Linked DNA regions of Homo sapiens. The protein of the gene in region 1 purifies or fractionates together with the protein of each later gene. This does not show direct contact. Each region holds a gene or a part of one and is shown in the gene's direction. Other genes may lie near its edges.

Region 1 (4,667 bases):
TTGAAGTTGTCTGGAGGTTTTCAGCCTGGGCTGAACTTTGGAAACACCTGTAAAACTTTTTAAAAATACTGATGTCAAGGTCCCACTCTCAGAGATTATGTTTTAATTGGTGTTTGTAAAGTCCCCCTGGTGATTGTAATGAAACATAACACTTAAAATGAATCATTTGCCTTTTAACATTCACAATTTAACCTTTAACATTGAAGTATTCTTATTGTTGATGAGACTGTTTTATTTCTTAGATTTTTTAGGTGATCAAGCTTTACTTTCTTGCTCCGTGGGAAATAAACCCATGAACAGTATATAAACCAAAACTTTGATGTTGAAAACTTTATTTTAAATTATCAGTTCAACTAGTAAATTTTTAAAAATCTGTGTGTATCAGATGGTGTTAAAGTTTATGGCTATCATAACTAGTAATATGAGTTAATGTTGAATCTTTTTTGATATAAATTGGAAAAACATAATATTTGAGGTTTTGGAAACATTAATAATTATGTATATAATTTTTGTCTTCCATTATTTATTCAGATTCTGGATTGTCATTTTTTATTTAGACTTTTTCCAAAACAAATCTTTATTTTTCCTATAGGTGAAAGCACTGAAAGAGAAGATTGAATCTGAAAAGGGGAAAGATGCCTTTCCAGTAGCAGGTCAAAAATTAATTTATGCAGGTATGAATTAAATATTAAAATTAACATGCCATGTCTTGATATTCTTTTAGTTTTAGAAATGTTATCTTATATATTGTAGTATATTCAAATTGTCAGAAAAATGATTGTACAAATAAAAGCAGTGAAAGAGCAGTCATTTGAATCTAATATTAATATTCAATCTTCTCTTTATTCACATTTGCCCTGTGTATTTTTCCATCAAATGGTATTAGTTTTGTTTTATCTTTTGTAAGCATCGTGTAACTGGCTTTTGTTTTTTTAATCAAACGGAGCTTTTTTTTTTAAATTGAATTGAAACCATTTATACTGATTGTGTTATTATTAGTATGCTTGGAATCATTCCTGTAAAATTATTTTAACCAAAACTAACTGAAGAGTACAGAAAAAACACATCACACAGACACCTACAGGAAGAAAAAAAATTAATATTCAGATTATGTAAAGAATTCTTAGAAATCAGTAAGGAAAGGATGACCAATAAAGCAACAAAGGATAAGAGTAGGAATTATACATTTGACTAGCCTCACTAATAACCAGGAAAATGTATATTAAAAATACATTTGATATCCAAATTTTTAGAGAAAATGCTTTCATTGTAGATGTTAGTAAGGTGGGTGTTTGATCACCCATGGATTCTTCTCTTTTTCTGAATAGTGTTTCCTAAAGTGAGACAGCCTGGAGGAAATGCTAACCTGGTGATTCAGTCCCATTATTTTTATAGGTCAGAATTCAGAAGCCTAAAGAAGCGGACATAAAATTCAAATTTCCAGTTTCTTGTTTTGGCCTGTTTTCTCATTCCTATCCATATTCCTTTCTGACTTAATGTTAGCAGCTTTTGATTCAATAGCTTTTTAAAGGTGGAAAACTAAATTCATGTAGCAAGAAACACTAGAGAGTCCTAGCTACCTAATAGTGACCTTCAGCACGACCACAGTTTTGTGTACTTCGTGCATTTCTAAGTTCTGTAGCATCTTGCCCTTTCTTGTGTATCATGTCGTTTTCTGAAGTACTTTTAGTATCTTGCTTTGATAGTGTTAGAACATTTCTGATTTATCAGATATCAGTATTTTGGGGAGCAGGAAATTTGTTTCTCTCCCTTTCTTCATATCATAAAAGAATATAGGTTATTTTCCAGAGGACCCCTGTGCAATCGGAGTATTGAATTTTCTTTATCTTCATGATCTCCTCCTTTTCAGGGCCTCTTTCATATTTCCTTGCCCAGTAAGTCTTTTATATAATCAATACATTTGTAAAAATTGATTGTCATTCTATATACACTATATAAGTTTGACATCTTTTAGTCAAATGCTTATGCTTTTTAGTTTTATTTGTTTGAGAGAGGGTCTTGCTCTGTCACCCAAGCTGGAGTGCAGTGGTGTGATTATACTCGCTGTATCCTTGAACTCCTGAGCTCAGGTGATCCTCCTGCCTCAGCCTCCCAAGTAGCTAGGACCATAGGCATGTGCCACAATGCCTGGCTAATTTTGAATTTTTTTTTTTCATAAACAGGGTCTTGCTATGTTGGCCATGCTGGTTTCAAACTCCTGGCCTCAAGCTATATTTCCTCCTCAGCCTACCAAAGTGTTGGGATTACAGGTGTGAGCCACCATGCCCTGCCACTTAGGAGTTGTTTTATTTTTATCTTGATTGATTGGTTTTTCTTTGGGAAAAGTATTAACTGATAGAATTTATGTTGGTGATTCATATTTTAATATTTCTGAAATATTCATATTTCGAGTAGAAAGTTGTTTTAACTGAAGTGTAAGAGAAAGATTATGCCTTAAATGATTTTTTTTTCTCTTAATGTATTAGGCAAAATCCTCAATGATGATACTGCTCTCAAAGAATATAAAATTGATGAGAAAAACTTTGTGGTGGTTATGGTGACCAAAGTAAGTTTCAACCTCATTCTGTATATCTTTATGCATGTAGGTCTTTTTAAAAATGATGATCACAAGTCCACACAATGGACACAGTTTATACACATCCATAGTGGTGTACACTTAACTACTATGAAAGGTTTTTAAGAATTTACCTTAAGTGAAACATAAAGTTATTAATGTTTTACATTAATTACACATTAAACTATAATATAGTTTTAATAAAATTTTATGTAAATTAAAACAATTGAAAAATAAAATGTCATGTTAAAATTATTTTTGCTACAGTAGTGAAATCATTATATAATTCTTTTAAAATGTCTTTATAAGTGGAATAAATGTTTATTCTGTAGTTTTTGTAAGCTTGCCTTAAATAGACCTGCTAAATTACGTACTAGTCCTAACAGATTCCTCAAGACAGAAAAGGCATGAAAGCTTATTATTACAGTGATAGTTCTTAGTGAAAGAATATGTTTTTAGAAACTAAAAAAAGGGAAAAGATAACTAAAGAAATGATGGAATGATTTTTATGAGGAAGTTTTTTTTGTTTTTGTTTTGTTTTTTTTTTTTTGAGACGGAGTCTCGCTCTGTTGCCCAGGCTGGAGCGCAGTGACGCTGTCTTGGCTCACTACAAGCTCTGTCTCCCGGGTTCATGCCATTCTCCTGCCTCAGCCTCCCTAGTAGCTGGGACTACAGGCGCATGCCACCACGCCCGGCTAATTTTTTTGTATTTTTAGTAGAGACAGGGTTTCACCGTGTTAGCCAGGATGGTCTCGATTTCCTGACCTCGTGATCCGCCCGCCTCGGCCTCCCAAAGTGCTGGGATTACAGGCGTGAGCCACCGCGCCCAGCCTGGAAGTTTTAAACAGATACTTTTTTGTGATTTAGTAGGCTGGAATGTATTTGGAACAATTTATAAAATTAAATTTTTTTTAAAGCAGAGAATGAACATGGATTTTTTTAAGAGACTATTTATATACTTGTTTATTTAAAGATATATAATGCAGTGTAGAATTAAGAGACAAATGGAGAAGTGGTACTCATGACATTCATTTTTAGGATTGGATTGTCATAATCTGAGAAAGAACAGTGTTACTTGTAGCACTGAAAATGAGTTTAAATCACTAATTGAAACCACTTCATCAAAGGCCAAAAGTGGATTAAATGTGGGTTTTTTCTCAAAGTCACAAAATAGTTAATAGTAATAGAAAATAGAGTCGAAGAAATAAATTCTAATTACCACATGCTTTTGTACTGGGAGCAAGCAGCTAAATAGTTTACAAGTGTTGAACATTTTTTAATTCATTAAGAACCATGTTGATTTTGCTATACTTAAGAACTTAAGTCATTATATGTTAAGTTTAAAAACAAGCAGAATCGTGAGGAAACCTTGTATCATCTAGGTTTTTTTATTCAACTGTGGTAAAATATAACAAACTTCCAGTTTAATCATTTTAAGTGTACAGTTCAATAACATTATAGTTACATTGTTTTGCAGCTATCACCATCATATAAGTGGAATCCTATGGTATTTGTCTTTTTGTGACTGGCTTATTTCACTTAGCATAATGTCATTGAGGTTCATCTGTCTATGTTATAGCTTGTGCCAGAATTTGCTGAACTTTTAAGACTGAATACTATCCTATTTTCCTATCTAGTTTTAGCATACATAGTACATAATGGGAAATGTGATAGCCACACATTTAAATATGTTTTGTTACTGGTCTTAGTTTCTTTTAATATTACAGTGATCCTGACTGTTTAGAACACAAGAATTAAGCAGAAAAAGTCTCAATAGGTGCGTGTGTTTGAGGAATAGATACTTGAAGCCTATCATTATATTGCATACAGTCCTTTTGTTTTTCCTTAAAGTCTTTTATTCCTAATATTACATAGGATTCTAATGATATTTATGATTGTTTTATTTGAAGTTAATAGAGGACAACTATGAAAAGGGAGGGAATGCTGCTACAGTAAGGCATTATGGAAGCACTGAGAAATGACCTTATTAATACAAAGAAGGGAAAGGAAAAAGCTATTAAGATCAAAAGCAAGAATAAAAACTAAAAAGCAGAGAAGGGCTTGGTACTGTTTAGAATAAAGTATAAGTAGC
Region 2 (4,667 bases), on another chromosome or scaffold:
GTTGCAGTGAGTCGAGATGGCAGCGTCCAGCTTCGGCTCGGCATCAGAGGGAGAGCGTGGAAAGAGAGGGAGAGGGAGACCGTGGGGAGAGGGAGAGGGGGAGGGGGAGGGGGAAGGGGAGAGGGAGGGGACTATATTTTTTAAAAAGAATGAAGAATCTAGTGTTTTGGATTTGGAAAATAAGTTCATATTTCATAAATAATATGATCAGTTGTCTAAATCAAAATAGTCATGCTTGGGAAAATGTTCATAATTAGCTTAAGTGGGGAAAAATACAACATACATTCTATCATCTCAATCTCTGTGTACATGTGTCGGAAGGAAATAGATCAAAATGATAATAGCTTCTGTCACCCACTGGGCTGTAGGATTTTGATGGAATGATTTTTATGTTCTTTTTTATATCTTTCAACTTTTTAAAAGCACACATATTTTATAATTAAAGAAGTACTTTAAAAAAATAAAATAGGGTAGGCGCAGTGGCCATTCCTGTAATCCCAGCACTTTGGGAGGCTGAGGTGGCTGGATCACTTGAGGCTGGGAGTTGGAGACCAGCCTGGCCAACATGGTGAAACTCTGTGTCTACTAAAAATACAAAAATTAGCCACGGGTGGTGGCATGTGCCTATCTATAATCCCAGCTCTTGCCAGGCTGAGGCAGGAAAATCGCTTGAACTTGGGAGGCGGAGATTGCAGTGAGCCGAGATAGCACTACTGCACTCCAGCCTGGGCGACAGAGGGAGACTCAGTCTTTAAAAAAAAAAAAAAGAAAAAGAAAACAGTAACAAAGGAGAAGGGCTTTCTCATCATTGTCATGAAATCACGCTGATGTATGCGCGCATTATGTTGTCAAATCAGTGAAATTTTGTGAGTTGGATCTCATTTAGCATCCCTGTTGCTGTTTCCATGTATGAGTATTGTATGTGCATAGTTCAAACTTCTGTTATTCTAGGAAAATGGCTCGCTTAATTGGGATAGAAGAATATATAATAAGGTTATAAAAATTTATTTTTAAAAAAATGTATACATACACATATATGTATTATTATTATCTTCCCCCCAGAAAAATATGCAGGAACCAATTGCTCTTCATGAGATGGACACTAGCAATGGGGTGTTGCTGCCTTTCTATGACCCTGACACCAGCATCATTTACTTATGTGGAAAGGTAAACAGTAATTTTGATGTTTGGTGTTAAATCCTGTAAGTGGAAACATTTATCCTTCAGAGATTTAGAGGACGGGCAATGTGTTGTATCTGTTTAATTTTTCTAATTTGTGTGTGTATGTTATAAGCCAAGGACAGATAATTTGGTATTTTTAGGTCTTGAGACTGGACTGTGTGCAGCTTGCCAGTTGTGCAGTGATAACACGCCATGTTGCATACTTTTGACTGAAGCAGAGGTTGGGCTGGGGTATTGGGGAAAATGCTCCAATCAGGGCGCTCTTGTGAAAAAAAGAAGATACACTGGTGTTTCATCTTCACCTAGCAGTGCTACCTGATTGGTGATTTTAGATTTATCTGTACTTATGTCAGGGATGGGCAACCAGTTGGCCACATCTAATGCTGAAATTTGTTGGATAACCCTAGATGAGCATGTGTATACTTAGTACCACACACCATGGACTTGGAAGGAGAATGGTGCTTTGTGGATGCAAACTTTTGAGGGCCTCAGAGACTCTCCAGAGGGTTCTTGTTCCTGGGGTTCAGTGCTAGGGCTCTGGGCTTGAAGATATGAGGCCTGACTAAAGCTCAGGGGTGATAACAGTTATAGGGAGACTCCACACTGAACTCCAAAAACCTTCCTCCTGCCTTATGAGCTCAGCATACCTAGACTGTGGGTAGCTTTATTATTTCATTTTTGTAAGTGGGAACCTTATAGTTCCCTTTTTTTTCTTGTAGGCTCAATTTCCCTTAGAACTTTTTGTAGTTGAAATAAATGAATTAATAACAGTGGAGCTGTTGAGGTAGTCCCTAGACCTGTTAGATAGCCCTTCACTGGGTGGTAAAGCTGGTGTTTGCTTTTCATAGCTGATTGAGCATGCTGCAGACCTGCTTTACATTTTTATAGGTCATTGTTTTAGAAATGGAGATCTTGTCTGTTTCCTTGAAAGCCATTTTACTGCAGATGTTAACAGGTGTTAAGTGCATTTACCTTGCTGTTGTTGCCCTTGACTGAATTAAAACAAACAAAATGAGCAGTTACTCAGATATTAGTAACATGAGATGGAAAATTCTTTTGGGCATGCAGAAATGACTAGTAAGGGTTTAGCTTCTTTTCCATTGCTTTAGATATCTCAGTCATTGAGACAAATGGAAATCATGAGAACTGGGAGCACTGTTGAGGCATGATACCACCTAGCTATTTTTGCCTTCTTCTTTCTTACATATATGTATATCTCCTCTCTGCCAGACAAGATTGCCGTCATTGTTCAGGTTGGTGTAACTGTGTGACAATTATTTGTACTTAGACTAACATATGCTTCAGTACTCAAAGATATCTGACTATTCTAAGCAAGAAAGTAGTAGAATTGTACACATTGCCATGAGATGGCACTTTCTGAGGATACTCACTAAAACTGAGTTTCTTCATTAGAAAAATCTCACTTTTTATCATCATACTGGCATAACAGCATTGCGTTATGCCAGTAAATGAATACTTAAATCAATAATTGCATTCTCAGCAGTCCTCTTAGTCTTTGTTTGTTTGTTTGTTTTTCACAGTTGAATTGCAATGTAGCTGTTTGGCAGAGGCATTAACATTTTTGCCCTAACCCTGGCCTGGTGCCTAGGCTCAGGGGAGTAAAATTAGAGCCAGGAGCCAGGAGGCTGAGGAGACCACTTAAAAGGCATGCTAGCATTTGATAAGTAAGGGGTTACTTTGTGAGGAAAAGAAACTTTTATATGCTTTAGGCAAGCCTCTTTATGAGGAAGAAAAGGTCAGCTACTGAAGCGGGGTCCCAACTACTGCTGGGTTTGTAGAGGAGAGAGACACCCCCATAATCCAGATGTTTCAGTTAACAATCAGACACAGACTTGTCTCTGGTTTCTTACAGGGTGACAGCAGTATTCGCTATTTTGAGATCACGGATGAATCCCCGTACGTCCACTACCTCAACACATTCAGCAGCAAGGAGCCTCAGAGAGGGATGGGTTACATGCCCAAGAGGGGACTTGATGTTAACAAATGTGAGATTGCCAGGTAAAGAATCGAGATTGTCAAGTATTCTAGGTTGGTGTAACTGTGTGACAATTATTTGTACTTGGACTAGCATATACTTCAGATCTCAAAAATATCTGACCATTCTGAGCAAGAAAGTAGTAGAATTGTACACATTGCCATGAGATGGCACTTTCTAAGGATATCACTAAAACTGAGTTTCTTCATTAGAAAAAAATCTCAAAAAAAAAAAAAAAAGAAAAGAAAAAAATCTCACTTTTTTTTTTTTGAGACGGAGTCTGGCTCTGTTGCCCAGGCAGGAGTGCAGTGGTGTGATCTCAGCTCACTGCAACCTCCGCCTCCCTGGTTCAAGCAATTCTCCTGCCTTAGCCTTCCAAGTAGCTGGGATTACAGGCGCCCACCACCACACCCGGCACATCTCACTTTTTATCATCACCTGAATGCCTGGTGATACCAGAGCAATACAGCTACAAGAAATTCTATGAAGCCCAAGTCTTTCTATCCTTGTGTGTACTGTGGAATTAATACCTCATTTCCTGCCCATATAACTGAAGTGCAACAATGAAGCAGCATAGCTGGGGTGTATTGCACACCTACTGAAATAGTGAAACATGCATCTTTAATCTTCAAGCTGAGGCCATGGTCAGCGTTCCCTGGTGGGCAAGTAGGGAGAGCCTGGCTCGGGGATGGAAAAGTGGGTGGTTTTCCTACCCTATGAGTGGAAGAACCAGAGTCAAAACTGTATTTGGGGCCCCACTGGTCCTAAAATAGAGAAACCAAAGGTCCTATAATGGGGCGGTAGGTTAGCTTGATTTAGGAAGTTCAGCTATGATATAATTTCTACCTCTCTGTACTACTTCTGATTTTTAGAAAATTCATATTCTAAATGCTAGCAGGCTTCCTAAGGGACAGGCTTTTTTCTCATGCTAGTCAACAAATATATCCTCTGAGACTCAGTGACCACTGGCCATTTCAAACAACAGAATAATTAGCACTACATCATCACATATAAGGTCGTACCAAACATTTGTGTAACACTGTGTTTATGTGGACTTTTAAAACGCTTGCTGTTCTGGTCTCACAATTAAAGAATTGATACTTACGTCTTCCAAATAAAAGGAAGAGAATTTTTATAAGCCCCTTTTTTATATTAATCTCTACTAAAAATAAAAAATTTGCTATGTGTGGTCGTGGGTGCCTGTAATCCCAGCTAATTGGGAGGCAGAGTCAGGAGAATCACTTGAACCCAGGAGGCGGAGTGAGCCGAGATGGTGCCACTGCACTCCAGCCTGGGCAACACAGCGAGACTCCGTCTCAAACAAACAAAAACAAACAAACCAAAACTCTCTATGTGATTTTTTTTTTTTAGTTGGAATAATGAAGGAAAGCTGTTAAAGATAATTGAAAATTGTGGTTTAAACCAAACTAATCAAAATATGGTTCAAAATAGACTGAATTCAAATTTATGATTACATCCAATATTTTGA
Region 3 (4,667 bases), on another chromosome or scaffold:
TCCATCTCAAAAAAAAAAGAAAAAGAAATGTGGTAAATACACACATTGGAATACTATTCAGCCTTAAAAAAGGAAACTCTGTCATTTGTGACAATATGGATGAATCTAGAGGATGTTATACTAAGTGAAATAAGCCAGACACAGAAAGACAGTTACCACATAATCTCATTTTCATGTGGAATCTTAAAAAATTGAACTCGTAGAAACCAAGAGTAGAATGGTGGTTACCAGAAGTTGTGGTGGTGTATGGGGATAGGGGAGATGTTGGTCAAAGGATATAAAGTTCACTTAGACAGGAGGAATAAGTTCTAGGTGACATATTGCATAGCATGGTGACTATAATTAATAATGTATTAGCTATTTCAAAATTGCTAAAAGTAGATTTTAAATGTTCTAACCACAAAGTAATGCTAAGCATGTGAGGTGATGGATATGTTGATTTGCCTGATTTAATCATTCTTCAATATATACATGTATCATAATTTAACCCATAAATATACAATTTATTTGTCAATTTAAAATAGATTTTAAAAATTATAACATTTTGATTAAAATTTTAATGTTGACAGCAGAAGTACTTTGGAATTTTTTTTTTTTTTTTTTTTTTGAGACAGAGTCTTGCTCTGTCACCCAGGCTGGAGTGCAGTGGCGAGATTATAAGCTCACTGCAACCCCCACCTCCCGGATTCAAGCGATTCTCCTGCCTCAGCCTCCCCAGTAGGTGGGACTACAGGCATGTGCCACCACGCTCAGCTAATTTTTTGTATTTTTAGTAGAGACGGGGTTTCACTGTGTTTCGATCTCCTGACCCTGTGATCTGCCCGCCTCAGCCTCCCAAAGTGCTGGGATTACAGGTGTGAGCCACCACACCTGGCCAAGTACTTTGGAATTTTAAATGAAAATTCTATTTAGGATTTAGCTTTCATTTTGGAAAATTTACTTGCCAAACGATTATATTCTTAAAAGGATTTTAAAAATTTGTTTCACATAGGCCGGGTGCGGTGGCTCCTGCCTGTAATCCCAGCACTTTGGGAGGCTGAAGTGGCAGGATCACCTGAGCCCAAGAGTTCAAGACCAGCCTGCGCAACACAGAGAGACCCCGTCTCTGAAAAACAAACAGACAAACAAAAAACTTAGCTGTGCGTGATGGCACATGCCTGTCATCCCAGCTACTTGGGAGGCTGAGGTGGGAAAATCGCTTAGGTCTGGGAGGTCAAGGTTGCAGTGAGCTGTGATCTCGCCACACTCCAGCCTAGGTGACAGAGTGATTGCCTGTCTCAAAACAAATTTTTTTCTACCTTACCATCTAATTAAGACTTCTTTTGTCATTCTTAGGTACGGGAAAAACACTCTTGGCACGAGCCGTTGCTAGCCAGCTGGACTGCAATTTCTTAAAGGTAAAGGGAAGATTATTTTGTACTTATTGAAATTTAATTTTACTTGAATTATCTTATATTTACCTTACTGTTTTTCCTTTAATCAGGTTGTATCTAGTTCTATTGTAGACAAGTACATTGGTGAAAGTGCTCGTTTGATCAGAGAAATGTTTAATTATGCTAGAGATCATCAACCATGCATCATTTTTATGGATGAAATAGATGCTATTGGTAAGAATAACACCCTTGTTGAAAGTTTTAGGACTTTTTTTTAAATGTAAAAGAACCTTTTTCCCTCTCTTAATCTGTAATTGTGACTTGTATGAAGTAGATACCACAATGAATCAGATGTTAGTTTAACCAATTTTAATAAATAACCTTTCATGGCCGGGTGTGGTGGCTCATGCCTGTAATCCCAGCACTTTGAGAGGCCAAGGTGGGCAGATCACCAGGTCAGGAGATCGAGACCATCTGGCCAACATGGTGAAACCCTGTCTCTACTAAAAATACAAAAATTAGCTGGATGTGGTGGCACATGCCTGTAATCCCAGCTACTGAGGAGGCTGAGGCACGAGAATCGCTTGAACCCAGGAGACGTAGGTTGCAGTGAGCCGAGATCACACCACTGCACTCCAGCCTGGCGACAGAGCGAGACTCCGTCTCAATAAATAACCTTTCACTTTAACAAAATGAGAAATGTTACACCAAAATCAAGTCTAACTTTGTCAGCATAATTCTTGCTCTTTAATTTTCATCTTAATGTTTTAAGCCACAGACTGTTATGTTCTGTTTTCTTAAATGATGGTTGTAGAGGAAAAGAGTAATGCATATAAATTTCCAAATCTACTATCTTAGGTGGTCGTCGGTTTTCTGAGGGTACTTCAGCTGACAGAGAGATTCAGAGAACGTTAATGGAGGTAATATTTGGTAAAGGGGGTTTATAAAGAAACCAATGTTTATTAAATGAAGAACTGAACATTGCATATTTGATAGTCAAAATATATAGAACATTTTAAATGAAATATGAAATTTGAAAATATTGTCAGGAACAAACATGTTTCTCTATCACAAACTCTAAGAAAATGACTACTGGAAAATAAGGCTATCTGCCAAATTCCATTTGGTATACACCTGTACTATTCTGTGTTTTTTTGAGTAGATCAGTCATTCATATATTTAAATTCTTATGAATGTGATCTTGCGGTAGTTTTATGAAGACATTTTTTGTAATGGTCATATTAAGACTGTTGGCAATAAATGAGCTATAATTATGTATGAAGCTGCTCTAAAAATTATTTTTTTCTCTCACTTTATTGCTGAGACTGAGGCAACTAAAATAGTTTTGATAATTGAAGAGGATAGATGACAGAATGAAAGAATGCACATAAAGCCTTCCTCCAGTTTTACCTTTCCCCACTCCAAATTCTGTGAAAGTGATATCAAGAGTCCAAATACATTTTCCACTTCAAATAGAAACTAGGTAGCATGGGTAATGCAGTGTCAAATTCTTTCTCCTTAGAAGTATTTGAAAAATCTTTTTTCATAAATTATACAGATCCGCTCAGAAGATAACATAGCATTTGGAAATTATAAAATCTCTTAGAAACCTTAAATTGAGATATTTTTAAATAACACAAATACTCATTTTATTCAAGTAACTAATATATCATCAACTAACACATTGTCAGACTAGCTATATTTTAGAGAGTTTGTTAAATGCAGTAAGGTTTTTCATTTATTCAAGAAAACTTTAGAAATTGAGGACAATATTTTTTATGTCTTTTAGTATTTCTGTGTACAGTAGAATTATTTGAAAAAATAGGCCAGGCATGGTGGCTTCTGCCTGTAATCCCAGCACTTTGGGAGGCCCAGCTGGGCAGATCATGAGGTCTGAGCATTGAGACCAGCCTGACCAACGTAGCGAAACACCATCTCTAGTAAAGATACAAAAATTAGCTGGGCGTGGTGGCGTGTGCCTGTAATCCCAGTTACTCAGGAGGCTGAGGCAGGAGAATTGCTTGAACCCAGGAGGTGAGGTTGCAGTGGGCTGAGATCGCCCCATTGCACTCCAGCCTGGGTGACAGAGCGAGAGTCTGTCTCCAAAAAAAAAAAAAAAAAAAAAAGCAGTCCCAGCTACTCAGGAGGTTGAGGTGGGAGGACTGGTCGAGCCCAGGAGGTGAAGGTTGCAGTGAGCGATGATCAGGCCACAGTACTCCAGCCTGGGTGACAGAGTGAAACTCTGTCTCAAAAAAAAAAAAAAAAAAAAAAAAAAAAAATTATCAGTTTATTATCAAATTTGTAGAAAAATCTTTGTATCCATTTATCCTAATATAAATGTTATGTCTGACATATCATAAGCACTTTATATATTGGATTTTATTATTAGCTTTTCCTTTAAAAAATAATTGATGAAATTTTGGACATTGGAAATTAGATCCACATAGTTTAATTTCATAATTCTTGACATGATGGAAGCCTTCAGATTTATTAAAACTACCTGGTAGCTATAGAAAGATACATAGCTATTAAAAGGTACATAATCTAGCTTAGAACTTTGAGGCTAGAAAGTATATCCCTTTATATAAGAGAGAGAAAAAGAATTCTATCAAATGACCATTCTGAAGATAGAACATATCTATCTGTAGACAATACATTTCATGGCATTAGACATATAAAAGGTGTGTGCTATTTTTTTTAATGGTTAGAATTTTTGTAAAATCTGATTCTTAATATTCTTAGTTACTGAATCAAATGGATGGATTTGATACTCTGCATAGAGTTAAAATGATCATGGCTACAAACAGACCAGATACACTGGATCCTGCTTTGCTGCGTCCAGGAAGATTAGATAGAAAAATACGTGAGTTAAGATTCTTTACCTACTGTCCATTTCCCTTTGTGCCCATTTCTTTTTCCATACTTCACTTCACCTTCCACTGTATTTTAAAAAAGATAAAACTGGACTATAAAATAATTTTTTATTTTCAGATATTGATTTGCCAAATGAACAAGCAAGATTAGACATACTGAAAATCCATGCAGGTCCCATTACAAAGCATGGTGAAATAGGTAAGGAAGTCATCTATTTTATATGTATTTACATTTGGTAAATGAAGAAAAATACTTTTAGAAATTACTGATAGTTTCCTAAATCTGGTTTTAAATTCAGCAAATGTGGTGGTTTTAAATTCAGCAAATAGTTATTGAGCATCTACTATAAGCTAGGAACCATTGTAAGTGTTTTGTAAGGGCTGACAATATAGCAAGGAACAAAACAGACAAATTTCTGCC
Region 4 (5,435 bases), on another chromosome or scaffold:
CCTCTGGAGCCCCCAGACTTACCCCAGGCCCTCCACTGAGATCAAGTTTTGGGAGCAGACAGACAAACATCATCCCTCACAGACAGGCATTCCGTTGGCTATTCTCTTGCAAACAGAATCAAGCACTAGACCAGCAGCATGAGCCTCAGGATACTCAGGCCAGGCCCAGAAAAACAGACCCTGAAGGGGAGCTTAGGGCAGCCTTCCTGCACGCCTCCACAAATCACTCTCCACCTCCTCTGCGTCTTTCTGCCAGCCAGCCCCACTAAACAAAGCACATCCCTCAATCTGCCAGGCTCGGGGAGGGACGCACGATGAAGCTGGACGCCTGAGTCCCCCAGAGGAAGGAGGAACTAGATACCTAGGTCCCTGTGGGGGGCCCTTGGTGCCCGTCTGAGGCTCAGTCTTTGAGGGGATTGCAGAGGGGGGTTGCTGGAGCTCCTTTTAGCGTCTCTGAAGGGGATTCTGTGTGAGGGGATTGGGACTGGGGGGTTGGGGAGCAGGAAGCAGTCCCCAGGGGAGCCATCCAGGCCCATTCAAGGGTTGAGCACTTGTTTAGGGTTAGAGCTGCCCCCTCTGGGGACCGGGATTGTCCAGCCAAGGCCATTGTCCTGCCCCCTTCCCCCAGTCCCTCCCAGGCTTCTTTGAACCTGAAGTCAGATATTTTTTCTCCACACCCCCCACCCCCTGGTTTTCCCCACCCAGGGCCTAGGGCTGGAGGCCTGGGCCAGGGAGGTGGGGGAGGGAGAACGGGGCCTACCGTGGTATTAGATGTCTGAGTTTTGGTTGAGAGGGGAGCAAGGAACCTGATGTGCAGGTTCCATAGTGGAGGGGGCCCAAAGCGGGTGTCTTATCACTCTGTTTCAGCAAAGGTTGGGAAACTGAGGCCCAGTCAGTCCAAAGTCTGGTCCCTTGAAGGGGAAGTAGGGACCAACCCCTTAGTCTGTTAGATGAGGAGAGTCTGGAGTCTGATTCTGGAAGACGGAGGGGTGGGGGGATGGGGGGGTGGGGGGATATAGCACGGAGGCCTTGTCTGGCAGTCTACTCTTGAAGATGGGGTGAAATTTGGCAGGCTGGGCAGATGGTGCCAGGCACCCAGGCTGCGGGGTGGCTGGATTTGGCCAGTATCGGGATGGGAATGCCTAGGATTCTGGATGGATCGGGGGAAGGCATAAGGGAGCAGCTGGCCATTGTGCTTATGGCTGTTGATGCATTGAGGGATAGCGCCACACACACATTCAATAAATTTGAGGAGCTGAGAGGGTGACTGGCCCCTGAAGGCACAGTGCCAGAGGTCTGTGGAGAGGGGGTCAAGCACCTGGGTTCCTGAAGAACATGGAGGTGTGGGAGTGATTCCAGACAGCTGGGATGTGCAGAGCCTGAGAGAGTGCCAGGGAGCGGGTTGGGAGTTGAAAGTTGGGTGTGGTGGCTCACGCCTTTAATCATGACACTGGGCGGCAGAGGCGGGAGGATTTCTTGAGGACAGGAATTCAAGACCAGCCTGGGTAACATAGCAAGGCCCCATCTCTACTAAAAATAAAAAAACTAACAGGGCACAGTGGTCCAAGCCTGTAGTCCCAGCCACTTAGGAGGCTGGAGCAGAAGGATTGCTTTGGCCCAGTAGATCGAGGCTACATTGAGCCATCATTGTACTCCACTGCACTCCAGTCTGGGCAACAAAGTGAGACCCTGTCTTAAAAAATAAAAATAAAAAAAGTTTCTGTGGGGGACCTGCACTGAGGTCCTGGAGGGGCGCCAGTTGTGTCTCCCGGTTTTCCCCTTCCACAGACACCATTGCCACCACCATTAGGCAAACATCCTTCGCCTCAGTTTCTCCCCCCACCTCCCTCTCCTCCACCCATCCAGGGGGCGGGGCCAGAGGTCAAGGCTAGTGGGTGGGACTGGGGAGGGAGAGAGGGGTTGAGTAGTCCCTTCGCAAGCCCTCATTTCACCAGGCCCCCGGCTTGGGGCGCCTTCCTTCCCCATGGCGGGACACCTGGCTTCGGATTTCGCCTTCTCGCCCCCTCCAGGTGGTGGAGGTGATGGGCCAGGGGGGCCGGAGCCGGGCTGGGTTGATCCTCGGACCTGGCTAAGCTTCCAAGGCCCTCCTGGAGGGCCAGGAATCGGGCCGGGGGTTGGGCCAGGCTCTGAGGTGTGGGGGATTCCCCCATGCCCCCCGCCGTATGAGTTCTGTGGGGGGATGGCGTACTGTGGGCCCCAGGTTGGAGTGGGGCTAGTGCCCCAAGGCGGCTTGGAGACCTCTCAGCCTGAGGGCGAAGCAGGAGTCGGGGTGGAGAGCAACTCCGATGGGGCCTCCCCGGAGCCCTGCACCGTCACCCCTGGTGCCGTGAAGCTGGAGAAGGAGAAGCTGGAGCAAAACCCGGAGGAGGCAAGTGAGCTTCGACGGGGTTGGGGTGTGGGGAGGTGGTCATGACAGGGCAGCCTGATGGGGAAGTGGTCACCTGCAGCTGCCCAGACCTGGCACCCAGGAGAGGAGCAGGCAGGGTCAGCTGCCCTGGCCAGGGAGGGGTGTGTATCAACTGCTGGCAGCCCTGGCAGGCAGGGGCCAGGTGGGAAGTGGAAGCTGGATTTCGAAGAGACAACTGCCGGTGAGGGCAGAGCAGCCTGGGAGAGTCGGAAGCTGGCCCAGGCTGGCCTTTGCTCTGGCCCAGCCCTTGTCAGGGTCTCTCACATCTCCTAGGCCTGCCCAGGGTCTGGTCACTCATTACTGGCCCAGCACCAGACCCAGCTTGGGGTTGGTTTGAGCCCCTTTTCCCACCCTTAGTCCTGCTTGAAAATTTGACCCTTATCAGACCCAAGATTTTGGCCTTAGGGTTAAGCATAGCCTGAGGGTAAAAACAGTGCTCATTCCAGGATTATTGTTCCTGAAAGTCTAGGGTGTGACTCGTTTCTGATAGGATCTCCTGTTTGGGCTGTGTGTGTGCGCGTTGTGAGCTGGGTTTACCTCCAGTCAAGTATAGGGCTTGTCTTCCCCGGATCTCTGCCTCAGGCCAATGACTGGCCACTGTGTTAAGGTGCACACCCTGGCACCCCTTGTAGAAAGCTGGATTTTGATTGACTTCAGCCTCAGTTCCAAAGTTGTAAACAAGAAAAATGGTGAGAGATTTCTCCAGGCCATTTGCAAATATAGAGCTGCTGCGGGATTGAAGGCATCCAGCCCTGCTGAGGACTATTAAAGATGTATCTTCCAGTCCTTCAAGGCGACAAGTGTAAGCAATTAGAGATTAAATACTAAGCCTTGAGACCTCACAGAAAGGTGTGACTGGTTTCTGGAGTGACCGAGAAGCCCCAACCTCTTCGCAGGAGGTCACTGCTGAGCCTTGAATGATAATGGCTGGCAATTGTGGTCCACTTCCTAAGTGCCTGGCTGTGTGCTCCGTTTATACATCATTATCTCATTAACCAGCACAAAATCTCCTAGGGGGAGGTATTATTATCCTATTTAACGGGTTTTAACTGCTAAATGATGAAGCGAGGATTTGGACCAGTGTTTATTCCAAAACCCCAAAACAGAATTTGGAAAATCCAAGATAGCAGAGGGCATTTATCAGTTTGAGTTATTGGCTGAGCAGAAGTTGGGGATGAAAACAGCCTATTTGAAATTGATATGATCAAGCACCATTGAAACACTTCCTTGAGGCTTCAGAACTACAAAAAGGCCTTGTTTTTTTCTCACTAGCTGTGCACCTCTGTCTGCCGGCAGCCTCATATGGCATGCCCCAGGGCTCAGTCCTTCAACCTCTGCTCTATCTACCCTTCCTTCCTCTCACCCACCCTCAAGGCTTAAATGCCATTTAGACACCAGATGACTACCGCGTTTTCTGTCTCTTGTGATGGCTCCCTGAACTGCTCCACCCTGATCACCCAGTTGCTCAAGGCCAAACCCAGTCATCCTCAGTTTCTTTCATGTCCTACATCCTATCCTTAAGAAACATCCTGAATCAATCACAACCTAACCCTGGCCTCAGCCACCATCATCTCTGCTGGGATTACCGCAGTAGCTTCTCAAATTATACTGCTTCCTCCCTACTGTCTGTGGCCAACACGTCAACTAGAGTCAGTGTTTTAAAAGGTGTGGCCAGGCACTTTGGGAGGCCGAGGCAGGCGAATCACCTGAGGTCGGGAGTTCGAGTCCAGCCTGACCAACATGGCGAAACCCCATCTCTACTAAAAATACAAAATTAGCTGGGCGTGGTGACGCATGCCTGTAATCTCAGCTACTCAGGAAGCTGAGGCAGGAGAATCGCTTGAACCTGGGAGATGGAGGTTGCGGTGAGCCGAGATCGCGCCAGTGCACTCCAGCCTAGGCAACAAAAGCGAAACTCTCAAAAAAAAAAAAAAAAAAGGTGAGGCTAGGTGCGGTGGTTCACACCTGTAATCCCAGCACTTTGGGAGGCCAAGGTGGACAGATCACTTGAGGTCTCCTGACCAGCCTGGCCAACATGGTGAAACCCCATATCTACTAAAAATACAAAAATTAGCCGGGCATGGTGGTGGGTGCCTGTAGTCCCAGCTACTCAGGCGGCTGAGGCAGAATAGCTTGAACCCAGAAGGCGGAGATTGCAGTGAGCCAAGATCACGCCACAGCACTCCAGCCTGGGCGATAGAACGAGATTCCGTCTTGGTGGGGAGAAAAAGGGTGAGAGATCATTTCGCTTGGACTAAAACAAAGTCACTATGTCTGCAACAGGATCTACCTAGCCACCAGACCAGCTTTGGGCTCTGGAAGGCCCACTTCAGGGCCTTGCCACATTAGACTCTTGTCCTTTGCTCAAACAATCACCTTCTCTGTCTTTAAAAGTGTCACCCTCCTCCATAATCTCCTTCCCTCCTTTACCCTACTCCTATAGACTGCTTTATTTTTTTTTTAATTTTTGAGATGGAGTCTCACTCTGTCCCTCAGGCTGGAGTGCAGTGGTGCGATCTTGGCTCACTGCAAACTCCACCTCCTAGGTTCAAGCAATTCTCCTGCCTCAGCCTCCTGAGTAGCTGGGATTATAGGGGAGCGCCATGATGCCCAGCTAATTTTTGTATTTTTAGTAGAGACAGAGTCTCACTATGTTGACCAGGCTAGTCTTGAACTCCTGACCTCAAGTGATCTACCCACCTTGGCCTCCCAAAGTGAAGGGATTACAGGCATGACCACTGCGCCCAGACTGCTTTACTTTTTTCCATAATATATATATATATTTTAAATAGAGGCAGCAGGGGTGGGAGAAGGGGCGGCACGGGTCTCACTATGTTACCCAGGCTGCTTTCTAACTCTTGGGCTCAAGCAGTCTGCCCACCTTGGCCTCCCAAAGTGCTAGGATTTACAGACATGAGCCACTGTGCCTGGCCATTTTTTATTTTATTTACTTTTTTATTTTTCAGAGCAGGAGTGGAAGTTTATTATTAAAAAGTTATAGGGCAGG

What was found. Proteins that work in one complex are often made in the same cells at the same time.
Region 2: the proteins of RAD23B (region 1) and CORO1C purify together in Homo sapiens (affinity purification with western blotting; 2 studies listed by BioGRID, with this or other methods). This does not show direct contact.
Region 3: the proteins of RAD23B (region 1) and PSMC6 fractionate together in Homo sapiens (co-fractionation; 4 studies listed by BioGRID and IntAct, with this or other methods). This does not show direct contact.
Region 4: the proteins of RAD23B (region 1) and POU5F1 purify together in Homo sapiens (affinity purification with western blotting; 2 studies listed by BioGRID, with this or other methods). This does not show direct contact.

Annotation. Positions count from the first base shown.
Region 1 is NC_000009.12:107,299,549-107,304,215, forward strand, and holds part of RAD23B (UV excision repair protein RAD23 homolog B), read left to right. Parts: intron 1-592; coding exon 593-674; intron 675-2,486; coding exon 2,487-2,566; intron 2,567-4,667. UniProt on the Homo sapiens protein: Multiubiquitin chain receptor involved in modulation of proteasomal degradation. Binds to polyubiquitin chains.
Region 2 is NC_000012.12:108,650,806-108,655,472, reverse strand, and holds part of CORO1C (coronin-1C), read left to right. Parts: intron 1-1,062; coding exon 1,063-1,167; intron 1,168-3,055; coding exon 3,056-3,201; intron 3,202-4,667. UniProt on the Homo sapiens protein: Plays a role in directed cell migration by regulating the activation and subcellular location of RAC1. Increases the presence of activated RAC1 at the leading edge of migrating cells.
Region 3 is NC_000014.9:52,716,746-52,721,412, forward strand, and holds part of PSMC6 (26S proteasome regulatory subunit 10B), read left to right. Parts: intron 1-1,335; coding exon 1,336-1,397; intron 1,398-1,483; coding exon 1,484-1,607; intron 1,608-2,231; coding exon 2,232-2,293; intron 2,294-4,115; coding exon 4,116-4,236; intron 4,237-4,364; coding exon 4,365-4,445; intron 4,446-4,667. UniProt on the Homo sapiens protein: Component of the 26S proteasome, a multiprotein complex involved in the ATP-dependent degradation of ubiquitinated proteins.
Region 4 is NC_000006.12:31,167,170-31,172,604, reverse strand, and holds the start of POU5F1 (POU domain, class 5, transcription factor 1), read left to right. Parts: upstream 1-1,922; 5' UTR 1,923-1,984; coding exon 1,985-2,389; intron 2,390-5,434; exon of another isoform or gene 5,435-5,435. UniProt on the Homo sapiens protein: Transcription factor that binds to the octamer motif (5'-ATTTGCAT-3'). Forms a trimeric complex with SOX2 or SOX15 on DNA and controls the expression of a number of genes involved in embryonic development such as YES1, FGF4, UTF1 and ZFP206.